4 linked regions of the Homo sapiens genome follow. The protein of the gene in region 2 interacts with the protein of the main gene of each other region in a biochemical or structural test. Each region holds a gene or a part of one and is shown on either strand. Other genes may lie near its edges.

What was found. The genes of interacting proteins can lie anywhere in the genome.
Region 1: the proteins of PEX5 (region 2) and NUDT19 interact in a test that uses a peptide from one of them, tested with the Homo sapiens proteins (one large-scale study listed by BioGRID).
Region 3: the proteins of PEX5 (region 2) and PIPOX interact in a test that uses a peptide from one of them, tested with the Homo sapiens proteins (one large-scale study listed by BioGRID).
Region 4: the proteins of PEX5 (region 2) and PEX6 form a complex in vitro, tested with the Homo sapiens proteins (one study listed by BioGRID).

What each region holds. Positions count from the first base shown.
Region 1 is NC_000019.10:32,708,821-32,711,556, reverse strand, and holds part of NUDT19 (acyl-coenzyme A diphosphatase NUDT19 precursor), read right to left. Parts: intron 2,373-2,736; coding exon 2,165-2,372; intron 1-2,164. UniProt on the Homo sapiens protein: Fatty acyl-coenzyme A (CoA) diphosphatase that hydrolyzes fatty acyl-CoA to yield acyl-4'-phosphopantetheine and adenosine 3',5'-bisphosphate.
Region 2 is NC_000012.12:7,196,186-7,199,685, forward strand, and holds part of PEX5 (peroxisomal biogenesis factor 5), read left to right. Parts: intron 1-2,825; coding exon 2,826-2,928; intron 2,929-3,500.
Region 3 is NC_000017.11:29,042,011-29,045,940, reverse strand, and holds the start of PIPOX (peroxisomal sarcosine oxidase), read right to left. Parts: upstream 2,801-3,930; 5' UTR 2,716-2,800; coding exon 2,602-2,715; intron 1,083-2,601; coding exon 934-1,082; intron 1-933. UniProt on the Homo sapiens protein: Metabolizes sarcosine and L-pipecolic acid.
Region 4 is NC_000006.12:42,972,682-42,976,181, reverse strand, and holds part of PEX6 (peroxisome biogenesis factor 6), read left to right. Parts: intron 1-1,143; coding exon 1,144-1,307; intron 1,308-2,095; coding exon 2,096-2,179; intron 2,180-3,500. UniProt on the Homo sapiens protein: Component of the PEX1-PEX6 AAA ATPase complex, a protein dislocase complex that mediates the ATP-dependent extraction of the PEX5 receptor from peroxisomal membranes, an essential step for PEX5 recycling.

The sequences.
Region 1 (2,736 bases), on a different chromosome or scaffold from region 2:
CTATTTAATATGTTTGGAACTGAGATAGTTGTTAACTAATCTAATTCTATGAGCTTACCTCAATTTCTTTATTGTGTTTTTTTATCTGTTTTTTGAGATGGAGTCTCACTCTGTTGCCCAGGCTAGAGTGCAGTGGCGCGATCTCGGCTCATTGCAACCTCCACCTCTTGGGCTCAAGCAATTCTCATGCCTCAGCCTCCCGAGTAACTGGGATCACAGGTGTCTGCCACCACGCCTGGTTAATTTTTGTATTGTTAGTAGAGACAGGTTTCGCCATGTTTACCAGGCTGGTCTCAAACTCCTGACCTCAAATGATTCACCCACCTCGGCCTCCCAAAGTGCTGGGATTACAGGCGTGAACTACTGCGCCTGTCCTCTTTCTTGTGTTTTTAATATCCCCTTACAACACCCCAGCCAAGAGTTTTCTTTGGGCCCATAAACATCTGTGACTGGTATGTTTCCACTGTGAACTGTAACTATTATACCAGTTCATGACTCTCTTTATTCTATTCAATACTGATATTAAGATTGGCCTTGATATTCATATACTTTTGATGTTTCAAAGTGGGCTGTTCTTATCATCTTCAGGTTAATTTAGAGAAATTCCATCAAAACTGCTAAATTTTCCCACTGTAGGTTGAGTAATAAATCTTTTTTTTTTTTGAGATGGAGTTTCGCTCTTGTTGCCCAGGCTGGAGTGCAATGGCGCAATCTCAGCTCACCACAACCTCTGCCTCCTGGGTTCAAGTGATTCTCCTGCCTCAGCCTCCCAAGTAGCTGGGATTATAGGCATGCGCCCCCATGCCCAGCTAATTTTGTATTATTAGTAGAGACGGGATTTCTCCATGTTGGTCAGGCCGGTCTCGAACTCTCGCCCTTAGGTGATCCACCCGCCTCAGCCTCCCAAAGTGCTGAGATTACACGTGTGAGCCACCGCGCCCAGCCTTTTGTTTTGTTTTGTTTTTGACAGAGAGTGTCGCTCTGTCGCCCAGGTTAGAGTGCAGTGGCATGATCTTGGCTCACTGCAACCTCTACCTCCTGGGTTCAAGTGATTCTCCTGCCTCAGCCTCCTGAGCAGCTGGGATTACAGGTGTGTGCCACCATGCCTGGCTAATTTGTTTTTTTTTTTTTTTTTTGTATTTTCAGTTGAGATAGAGTTAACATTTTACTTTATTTTCTTCATAATTTCATAATTCATAATTTCAATTGAAATTATGTCCAACTGAAAAAAAAAAACAAAGTTGGCTGGGCACAGTGGCTCATGCCTATAATCCCAGAATTTGGGGAGGCTGAGGCGGGCGGATCACCTGAGGTCAGGAGTTCAAGACCAGCCTGGCCAACATGGTGAAACCCTGTCTCTACTAATAATACAAAAAAATTAGCCAGGCGTGGTGGCACATGCCTGTAATTCCAGCTACTCGGGAGGCTGAGGCAGAAGTATCGCTTGAACCCAGGAGGCAAAGGTTGCAGTGAGCCCAGATTGCACTCCAGCCTGGGTGACAAGAGCAAAACTCTGTCTCAAAAAAAAAGCTCCCTAATTCAAATTAGATGACAACTTACGAGTTCTCGTAATTCAAACTTAAAATGCAAAAAAGTGAGAAATCAGCCAGGCATGGTGGCTCATGACTGTAATCCCAGCACTTTGGGAGGCCAAGGCGGGTGGATCACAAGGTCAAGAGTTCAAGACCAGCCTGGCCAAGATGGTGAAACCCCGTATCTACTAAAAAAAAAATACAAAGATTAGCCGGGCACAGTGGTGGGCACCTGTAATCCCAGCTTCTTGGGAGGCTGAGGCAGAGAATTGCTTGAACCTGGGAGGTGGAGGTTGCAGTGAGCCAAGATTGTGCCACTGCACTCCAGCCTGGGTGACAGAGGGAAACTGTCTCAGAAAAAAAAAAAAAAAGTGAGAAATTATATGAGAAAGACCTTTGTCAATGTCTAGGAAATATATTAATATAAATGTATGTGTATGTATATGACATTATGCAGAATTTCTGGTTATAATAATATGGATATTTTATAGGCTTTGATCTTACTTAGCTAATACCCTGTAGATTACAAAACACAGACTGTAATTCCTGTCTCTACGTTGGGCAATACAGCCATGCAGCCCAGGGCACTGAATGTGAATACTAACAAAAGCACCGATGCTTCACTGGTTTACCTGGTAAAAGATGGACCATCCCATCAGCAGTTAACAAGATGATCGGCAGCCACCTTTCCAGTCCTTCTAATGCACGACCCAAACAAAATTTGTGCAAGTCAGAGAGAGAGGCAAAGTTTGCAAGTCTTCTCACTTCGTAGAACTGTGGGGGTGGCAACCAAATTTCTTTTGATAAGAAACTTTCAGTTGCCTCTGATGGAGATGACCACTGTGAAAGACAAAGGCAGGGTTTCTTAAGGTTTATGCCATAGACAATGTGAGACTTGAGACAGTCAGACCAGTACCTAAGGTAGAACTGAATGTGTAAAATGAATTCATTAATGCGCCCTGTGAGATCCCTCAAAGACAACATGAAAAGATTCAGTGAAGAAAGCTGGGTTGATCCTCTTAAGAGGTTGCTTATTAGGACACTGATCCTCAGAACTAGTAAATAAACCAGGGCAGACCCCTGAGGCTTGACCTGGGAGAGCTGTTCAGCATAAGAGGTGGGAGATGCAGAGAGGGTAAGGTGGTTCCGGTCCCTGCTGAAAGAAGAAAGACTCTGAAGGGTAAACTCATCACAGTAGATGGAG
Region 2 (3,500 bases):
TATAATGTAATATATGTTATGTAATAATTATATATGTCATATATAATTTAATTATATGTCATATTTAATTATATATGTCATAATTTATATATGTCATATATAATTTAATTATATGTCATATATAATTTAATTATATATGTCATAATTTATATATGTCATATATAATTTAATTATATATGACATATATAATGTAATAATTATGTGTCATACATATATGTGTCATATATAATGTAATAATTATATGTGCCATATATAATGTAATAATTATGTGTCATATATAATGTAATAATTACATCATATATAATGTAATAATTATATATGTCACATATAATGTAATAATTATATATGTCACATATAATGTAATAATTATATATGTCACATATAATGTAATAATTATATATGTCACATAATGTAATAATTATATATGTCACATATAATGTAATAATTATATATGTCACATATAATGTAATAATTATATATGTCACATATAATGTAATAATTATATATGTCACATATAATGTAATAATTATATATGTCACATATAATGTAATAATTATATATGTCACATATAATGTAATAATTATATATGTCACATATAATGTAATAATTATATATGTCACATAATGTAATAATTATATATGTCACATATAATGTAATAATTATATATGTCACATATAATGTAATAATTATATATGTCACATATAATGTAATAATTATATATGTCACATATAATGTAATAATTATATGTCACATATAATGTAATAATTATATGTCACATATAATGTAATAATTATATATGTCACATATAATGTAATAATTATATATGTCACATATAATGTAATTATATATGTCACATATAATGTAATTATATATGTCACATATAATGTAATTATATATGTCACATATAATGTAATTATATATGTCATATAATGTAATAATATATGTCATATATAATGTAATAATTATATATGTCATATATAATGTAATTATATATGTCATATATAATGTAATTATATATGTCATATATAATGTAATTATATATGTCATATGTAATAATTATATGTCATATGTAATAATTATATATGTCATATATAATGTAATAATTATATATGTCATATATAATGTAATCATATGTCATATACAATGTAATAATTATATATGTCATATACAATGTAATAATTATATATGTCATATACAATGTAATAATTATATATATGTCATATACAATGTAATTATATGTCATATACAATGTAATTATGTTATATATAATGTAATAATTATATATGTTATATATAATATAATAATTATATATGTTATATATAATGTAATAATTATATGTTATATATAATGTAATTATATATGTTATATATAATATAATAAGTAGTAATTACTTATTATTTATAATTAGGTGTATTCTGAGAGTCTTGATCTTTGTTTTTCACATTTTGACATTTCATGCTCAGATTTTGAGACTACTTTGTTGACATTATTCAGGCAAAGTTTCAGTTAAAATGGAGTAGAAGTTTTTGTACTTTAATACCGAAGGGGTAGTAAAAGCAAGGGTGGTCAGATCTTGAAACTGGGGACAAAGACTGCTAGTATCAGCTAATATTTTCACACCCCTGCCCAAATGTCCCTCTTTAATGCAAATTGGAGTTAGTAGGTTCTCAACAAGAGAGTGGAGTTCCCCCTTGGGAACTGTCCTTGTCATGGGCCAGGAGTGGGGAATAGCAGGGGAAGGTGGTGGCAGACTAACTAGTAAGATTAGTTCTGGACACAGGGCAGAAGGAAAGAACACCGTAGGCTTGTGCCTTCTCTTTGTTTCCTTGTGTTCTTTAGTGCCCGCAGTCAGTCTCCTTGTTTTTTTTTTCTGGCCACAGGATAGTAAAGGGCAAAGTCCTGGAGGATGAAAAACAGTTCAGCACCCTCATTGAGTTTGTTGCCTTGATAGGTTAATTCTGATGTTGCAGCAGTCCCCTTTGTCACTAGAGCTTCTGAGACAGTTTCTAAAATTAGACTGAAAAAACATAGCTACTCAAAGATAATCAAAAGTGAGAAAAGTCAGAATAGTGTTTACTTCTGGGGGCTGGGAGACTGAGGGAGCCTGTGAGGGAACTGTAAACGTTCTGTATCTTGATCCGGGTGGTGGTTATGTGAGTGTATCAAATGTGGAAGTTAATTTAGCTGTACACTTAAGTTTGGTAGACATTATATGGTTTCATATTTGTATATTACATTTCAATTAAAAAATGAAAAAACCCACCAAACATCCATAGGGAAGAGCAGACCTATGTGTCTTTAATTCTAGCCTAGCATTCCACTTCTCTGATTCTCTTGGTAGGCAAATTACAATGAAATAAGGCTCCTTTGGCCGGGATTGTGTGAACTCTGGGTAGAGGGAGAACAGACCAGTGCCTTGGTTAAGGAACAGGAGCCCTTCTGTGCTCCCTTCACTCCTTACTGGCTCCCTGCTGTACTTCTGAGGAAAGTGAAAGCCCTTCCGCTTCCTATTTCTTATTGAAATATCTTGCACTTCAAGAAAAAGAGTTTGGTTCTTAATCCTTTCCTGAGATTCCTTATTTGATCTCCCGTTCCCAACTCTCAGTAAATTTCTGCCCCAGGCTCCTTGAGAATGGGTTGGATATTGAGGATGTTGAAAATTTAGTACTATATTCTTTTGACCAGGGGTTTCTGAGGGAGTCAGCAGAGTTTTGTCTGCTTTGGTGTGGCTAAGAGGGTCAGTTGAATATGGGCATCTCTTTCCCTTTCCTTGATCCCACACTGAATGAACCTGTGTGATTTCCCCACTTCTCTGCTCCTTGCAGACCCCTTGTCTGTGTCCCCTGCCCGCTGGGCTGAGGAATATTTGGAGCAATCAGAGGAGAAGCTGTGGCTGGGAGAACCTGAGGGAACAGCCACCGATCGCTGGTGAGTTCAGATACCTCTTTCCGAATCCCGTGAAAGGAGTATGGACAGTTTTCCCAGCCTCCTCCATCCACGTTCTCGAACCAACTTACTTTATTCTTTTTTTTTTTTTTTTTTATCATTCTTGGGTGTTTCTTGCAGAGGGGGATTTGGCAGGGTCATAGGACAATAGTGGAGGGAAGGTCAGCACATAAGCAAGTGAACAAAGGTCTCTGGTTTTCCTAGGCAGAGGACCCTGCGGCCTTCCGCAGTGTTTGTGTCCCTGGGTACTTGAGATTAGGGAGTGGTGATGACTCTTAAAGAGCATGCTGCCTTCAAGCATCTGTTTAACAAAGCACATCTTGCACCGCCCTTAATCCATTTAACCCTGAGTGAACACAGCACATGTTTCAGAGAGCACAGGGTTGGGGGTAAGGTCATAGATCAACAGGATCCCAAGGCAGAAGAATTTTTCTTAGTACAGAACAAAATGAAAAGTCTCCCATGTCTACTTCTTTCTACACAGACACAGCAACCATCGGATTTCTCAATCTTTTCCCCACCTTTCCCCCTTTTCTATTCCACAAAACCGCCAT
Region 3 (3,930 bases), on a different chromosome or scaffold from region 2:
CTTTCTTTCCCATGAGTGTTTGAAAGGTCAAGGGTTGGAGAGAGCCATGAAGGCAGCAGAGAAAGACGTGGAGGCTCACTCCCTGGCAAGCAATCCAGCCTGGGGAACGTCCCCATTTTGTTCCTACAGGAAAAGGTACTCAGAGAGAACAAAATGGGTTTATAGGGCTGCTAAAGGGGGTGAGGACCCCTCAGGAAAAGTTAGGATGTTGATTTGACTATAAAGAATCCTGGGCCAGGCACGGTGGCTCACACCTGTAATCCCAGTACTTAGGGGGGCCGAGAAGGGCAGATCATGAGGTCGAGAGATCAAGACCATCCTGGCCAACATGGTGAAACCCTGTCTCTACTAAAAATACAAAAATTAGCTGGGTGTGGTGGTGCGCACCTGTAGTCCCAGCTGCCCGGGAGGCTGAAGCAGAAGAATCACTTGAACCCGGGAGGTGGAGGTTGCAGTGAGCCAAGATGGCGCCACTACACTCCAGCCTGACAAAAAAGCGAGACTCTGTCAAAAAAAAAAAAAAAAAAAAAAAAAAAAGAATCCTCCTGAAAGCAGCCTCCTCCTCTATCTCAACCCCTGCCCTAAAAGAGTTGCAGAGGCCTCCACAGAGTTGAAAATACACACTCCAGCAGACTCCTGTCCACTCTGGGCATCTGCCACACGGTGCCTTGCCAGCAGGCTTTCCAGTACTGCTTCTGCTAGCCTTGGACACATGGTCTGAACCCAGTCCTGCAACGCAGAGCCTGGCCAGAGTCAGCTGGACCTGTGGGGTGACCACCATGACAGCAGAACTCTTCCATGCATCTGGTACTTCTTGAGGCCTTGTGTCCCTCCCATTGCATTCCAAATGTTCCATGGCGCTGCCACTTCACACACTAAAAGTACCTGCAGGTGCAGAGCCCCACGATTCAAGGAATTCCTCCCACAGCCCACCTGTGCAATTGGGTTCCAGCCTCGTGCTCCAGCTGGGCCCATATCTGATAGCACTCATGCATCATCCGGGTGTAAAAGTCTTCCAGGTACGCCTTTCGGATTATCCGGCTTTGTCCATGGGAGCTTCCTCGGGAGTGTGGTAGAAAGAACTGGAAGTGGAAAACAAGAGAGATGATGGAAGCCATTACCCCTCACACTGCATCCCCTGTTAAGAGCCATATCAGCATGTGCTGTCAACCAGGAGCCATTTATCCTTCAAATATTTCCACACAATCTGGGGAAGGATTATGCACAGGAAGATAATTTGAGCCCAGGAATTCAAGACCAGCTTAGGCAATATAGCAAGACCCAGTCTTCTCAAAAATTTAAAAACTATCAGGTGTGGTGGCACTTGTAGTCCCAGCTACTTGGAAGGCTGAGGTAGGAGGACTGTTTGAGCCCAGGAGTTTGAGGCTGTAGTGAACTATGATAGTACCACTGCACTCCAGCCCGTGCAATAGAGTGAGATCCTGTCCCCCCACAAAAAAAAATTCACACAATCTTTCCAAATTCTCTCTTTATGACCAATTTACTGACTTGGCAATCAAGATAGAAGTTCTTCAATAGCACTAACTTAGGCTTCCTTTTTGCTAACGTTGTTCACATCCAGAAGTTCTTTTGTTAGCTAGTCTTCAACCATCCTGCTGCAATCTCACCTCACTTAGATTCACAAAGAAGCAAAATTAGAAAAAACCTTCCAGTTCAACTACTCCAGCCCCTTCATTTTATGAACAAGGAAACTGATGCTGACTTTATTTCTCTGTGGCTACAGATCACTCAGGGTAAGAGAACCACCTCAGGATTCAGCAACAATGAGTTTCCTGAGAGGATGAACCAGGAATCCCTTGGGCTTTGAGAAAACTGATAGAGAAATGAAGAAGGTTTCTAACTACTCTGGCTCATTACCAAGAAGAGCAAACCATAGCCAGCCTGGGTAGCTGCAGGCAGAATGGAAAGGGAGAGTCCACTGCAGTGGATAGCTGGGTGGCCCTGTCCTCGAAGGACCCTGCAGACACACAGGGCCCACCCACATATGCAGTGGTCACTGCAGACTGCACTGCGTAGCAGGAAAAATAAGGCCTCAGTCTCACTTATCATGTGTCAAACAAGGAGGCTGCTATTATCTGGAGGTGGCAAAAAATAAAAAATAAAAAAAAAAAACAGAAGCTTCTGCTGGGTTCTGGTGTGAGAGGCCAGGAATATGCAAGACAGAATCCTACCTCTTAGGCTGATAAATCAACCTTTGCCTCTAGGCAAAATTATCTTTACTTTAGGTTACCTAGAGCAGAACCAATTATTTTTCTGGGGTGGGGATCAACCATTTGGGCACAGAAGGGAAAGAGTAGTGAGAAGGAAGAGAACAGGGCCTAGGACGCTTGGTCAAGGGCAGGAACTGGGAAGCAGTAGAAAGAGGAAATGTGCCTAGAAACCCAATGTGGGTATGAGGGATGTGAAACTTCTTTGAATTGCCATGAAACACACTAGGCAGCTAAGATACAAATTACACAGAATTTTTGATGATTCAGTCCCTTTGGCCTTGCCCTGTAGCCTGCTGGCTCTGAAAACCCTTCTGCAGGGGAGGAGGGTAGGACAGTCCTTACAGCTGGGGGTGCAGAAGGGACACAGTACCTGCTCCAGCAGGAGGATCCTCTTCCTGTGTTTGGCCAGGTGGTATGCAGTGAAGCAGCCCTGGATCCCCGCCCCAATCACAATGGCGTCCCAGAGATCTTTCTGAGCCGCCATGATGCCACTCAGCCCCACAGCCACAGAGCCTCAAAGGCAAAGGCAAGCAAAGACAGGCTCCCGGCTAAAGGACGAGGAGGAAGGCAAAGTCCAGCCTGGCCAGTGTTCCCACAATGCCCTGGGGTCGTGTCCTCCCGCTTCCCTCTCTGCCAAGCCTGGCCCAGGGCTCAGTCTCCCTTCCCCTGCGGAGCAGAGCTGGGTAGTCTGATTTGTGAGGTTTAGCCCAGCTCAGCCGCCAGCCTCACCCTTGCATCCCTGTGGCTTTCTATTCTTGGCTCAATTATTGTCATGCAAATGGGCTCCTTCCTTTGCCACCTTCCTGTCTCATTATGATCTTTGTCTCAGGACTTCGGCCCTGGAATTTCAATGCCTCCTAGACCATACTGGGCACCGGGAATGCTGCCTCCCCCTGCTGGTTTTCCCCTCTTCAGCCTGATTTGCTTTAGAGATTCTAGAGGGCCCCGCTAAGAACTTGGCACGATGCCCAGAATAAGACCCACCTCCCTGGTGGGTGGTGAGGTCAGGGGGTAGAGGCAGGGGCCAATTGGGAGGGCAGTTTTGTAATTATGAAATTATTCCCAGCATGTTTTACTTTCATTTTGAAGAAAGAAGAAATGATCCTGAAAAGACAGAAAGGGCAGAGTGAGAGGAGGAGCCCTCTCCTCAGCCACAGAGAGGGGACCAGGCCAGCCCAGTGCCTGGAGGGGCCCCGTGTTGAGCATCTCTCTGTCCCAGGCAGTATGCTTAGTAAGTACTGATACTGGCATTTGGGTAGGGCTTGATTGTCATACAGTTCGAGGGTACTCTTTGAGAAAAAGAAAAAAGGAGAATTATTAATACAAAATTAGATGCCCGGATGTGGAAGAAACTGTTCAATTAAGGACCCCCATGGTTGAAGTTTCATTTGCTTCATGGTAAATTTGCCTCTGCATGAGTTATCTCATTTACTCCTCATAGCCCTAGGAGTTTCTGCGGGTTTTTGTTTTTGAAGTTTTGGTTTTTGAGAGGATCTCTGGGATCTCACTGTCACGCAGGCTGGAGTGCAGTGGCACGAACTCGGCTCACTGTAGCCTCCACTTCCTGGGCTCAAGGGGTCCTCCTACCTCAGCCGCCCGAGTAGCTGAAACTACAAACGCATGCCACCATGCTCAGCTAATTTTGTTTATTTTTTGTAGAGACGAGGGCTCACTGTGTTGCTCAGGCTGGTCTCGAACT
Region 4 (3,500 bases), on a different chromosome or scaffold from region 2:
AAAAATACAAAAATTAAATCCCAGCACTTTGGGAGGCCAAGGCAGGCAGATCACAAGGTCAGGAGATTGAGACCATCCTGGCTAACACGGTGAAACCCCGTCTCTACTAAAAATACAAAAAAAAAAAAAATTAGGTGTGGTGGCACATGCCTGTCGTCCCAGCTACTCTGGAGGCTGAGGCAGGAGAATCCCTTGAACCCAGGAGGCGGAGCTTGCAGTGAGCCGAGATGGTGCCACTGCACTCCAGCCTGGGTGACAAGCGAGACTCCATCTCAAGAAAAAAATAAAACCCACAAAAATTAGCCAGGCATGGTGGTGCACATGCCTATAGTCCCAGCTACTCAGGAGGCTGAGGCACAAAGAGAATCATTTGAACCCAGGAGGAAGAGGTTGCAATGAGCCGAGACTGTGCCACTGCACTTCATCATGGGCGACAAAGTGAGACTAAGTCTCAAAAAAAAAAAAAAAACTAAATCATGTTTTTTAGTTGCTTTAGCTACATTTCTTTGTTTTTGTTTTGTTTTTAGCCACATTTCAAGTGCTCAATAGCACATGCAGATATAGACTATTCCATTGTAGAGAGTTCTACTGGGCAGTACTAGAGTAACCAGTTAATACTTTGGGATGTCAGGTAGAGATACATGTGAAATACATGTGAAAGGGAGTGGATGTAGGTTTCCTCCTGAATGGAGGAAAAACTACTGGGGTACTCAAGAGTAGAGCTCATTGAACCAACCAATGACTGAACCAACCCGTTCAGCTTTTCCCACAGCCTGAATTCAGTTTCCCCACTAATGACCACTTAATGTTAATCCCTGTGGATGCCTGGTGTCACTAATAGGTCTTGTGGGAATAAATGTCTTTACCATTTCACTGGCTCTGGGCCAAGTTGAAAGTGTCACAGAAAGGTTATCTTTACTGAGAAAATTTTTTGGAGCCAGAGTCGGGATAGGAGGTGATATTCTCTTCCTGGTACCCATTAGAGGGAGAGGTTTTCAGGTCTGCTACCTCAGGCCCCACCTTCCACAAGCCTTGTGGTTATGGGAAAGACAGGATGGAAATAGACATGTTGGCTGCTGAGAGACAGGTTAGAGCCTGCCCCCTTAGGAGAAGGTTATAACGTGGTGGTTATTTCTCTAATAGAGGTACTTGGAAGGCTCCATCGCCCCTGAAGACAAAGGAAGCTGCTCATTGCTGCCTGGGCCTCCATTTGCCAGAGAGTTACACATCGAAATTGTGTCTTCTCCCCACTACAGCACTAATGGAAATTATGACGGTGTTCTTTACCGGCACTTTCAGATACCCAGGTTAGCTACCTAACCTTTTAAGGAGGATAGCTTCTCACCCTCATTACATTCCTCCTATCCCATGCCTTAGAACCAAGTACCCCAGAGGCCCTGGTTAAAAGAAGCCACATTTGCGGCTAGGTGCTGTGGCTCACGTCTGTAATCCCAGCACTTTGGGAGGCCGAGGTGGGCGGATCATGAGGTCAGGAGATTGAGAGCATCCTGGCTAACATGGTGAAACCCCGTCTCTACTAAAAATACAAAAAAAAAATTAGCCGAGTGTGGTGGTGGGCGCCTGTAGTCCCAGCTACTTGGGAGGCTGAGGCAGGAGAATGGCGTGAACCCGGGAGGTGGAGCTTGCAGTGAGCCGAGATCGCACCACTGCACTCTAGCCTGGGCGACAGAGCGAGACTCCGTCTCAAAAAAAAAAAAAAAAAAAAAAAACAAAAAAAACATTTCAGACAGATTGTGGTAGGCGCCTCTTGGTATATCAGGGAGACCACAGAAGAGAAATCTGAACCATGAGGTTAATTTGGACATTCCAAACAGAGACACCTGTGATTAAAGAGGGCTCCAAAAGAGCCAGGATCCTGCTCTGCCACTCATCTGTCTCTGATCCCCCTTTCTAGTCTCTCCACCATTTCCCCTAGCTCATCCTAAGACTGACTTGTTCCTTGGAGAACTGCGTGGGATCTCTGGGCGGGCAGTAGACTCAAGAAGTAGTCTGCATGTCGGGGGTGGACATGTGGTAATGAACACATGCTCATTACTCCCATTGTGACCTGACCAGGGCCACTGCTGTGTTGCAGGGTAGTCCAGGAAGGGGATGTTCTATGTGTGCCAACAATTGGGCAAGTAGAGATCCTGGAAGGAAGTCCAGAGAAACTGCCCAGGTATGCAGCTGCCTTCTGTCCTACAGCTGGGATTTGTAACCTGGGTGCATGAGTTCTACAATCCCCTCCCTGCAAATCATGTGTAATTTGTGCCCAAGAGGATTTCGTTGTCATGTATTTTGTGTGTGCGTGTGTGTGTGTAACAGGTTCTTGCTCTGTTACCCAGGCTGGAGTTTAGTGGTGCAAACACAGCTCACTGCAGCCTCTACCTCCATGGCTCAAGTGATCCTCCCACCTCAGCACTGCCTCTGCCCCAGTAGCTGGGACTACAGGTTCGCATCACCACGCCCAGCTATTGGTTTTTGTATTTTTAGTAGAGATAGGGTTTCGCCATGTTGACCAGGCTGGGCTCGAACTCTTGAGCTCAAGTGATCTGCCTGCCTTGGCCTCCCAAAGTGCTGAGATTACAGGTGTGCACCACTCACCCCCAGCCTGTGTACATTTTTTTGGAGAGAAAATTCACCTGTCCTTCAGTTCCCAAACAAGTGTATGACTGAAGAAAGGTTAAGAACCAGTCAGGCATGGTAGTGCATACTTATAATCCCAGCTACTCAGGAGGCTGGGCAATATAGCTAGACACTGTCTCAAAAAACAAGCAAACTAAAAGAACCACTCCCTGCTGGCTTTGGGAGGTGTTTATCCTCAAACTGACTGGTGGCCCTATGTAAAGCAAAGCACTAAGAAGAGTTTAGGCCAGGTGTGGTGGCTCACGACTGTAATCCCAGCACTTTGGGAGGCTGAGGCAGGCAGATCACTTGAGGTCAGGAATTCAAGACCAGCCTGGCCAATATGGTGAAACCCTGTCTCTACTAAAAATACAAAAATTAGCCGGGTGTGATGGTGGGCATCTGTAATCCCAGCTACTCAGGAGGCTGAGGCGGGAGAATCACTTGGACCTGGGAGGCAGAGGTTGCAGTGAGCCCAGATCGCATCACTGCTCTCCAGCCTGGGTGACACAGCAAGACTCCATCTCAAAAAATAAATAAATAGGTAAAATTTAAATTCTTTTCTTTTTAAAGAAGAGTTTAATGGCCTAGACCAAGACGGGATTCCTTCCTTTCCGTTCTTAGCCTTCGTGTTATTTGGACCAAGACTTGGGCCATACCATCCATATCTCAACGTAAGGATATACAGGCTCTGATTTCTGCCTTAACTACGGAGTGTGCACAAACTACTTCTCAATCCTATCTCTGAAAACAGGAGAGGGATTTCTCTTTTTTTTTTTTTTTTTTTGAGACAGAGTCTTGCTTTGTTGCCCAGGCTGGAGTGCAGTGGCGCAATCTTGGCTCACTGCAAGCTCCGCCTCCCGGGTTCATGCCAT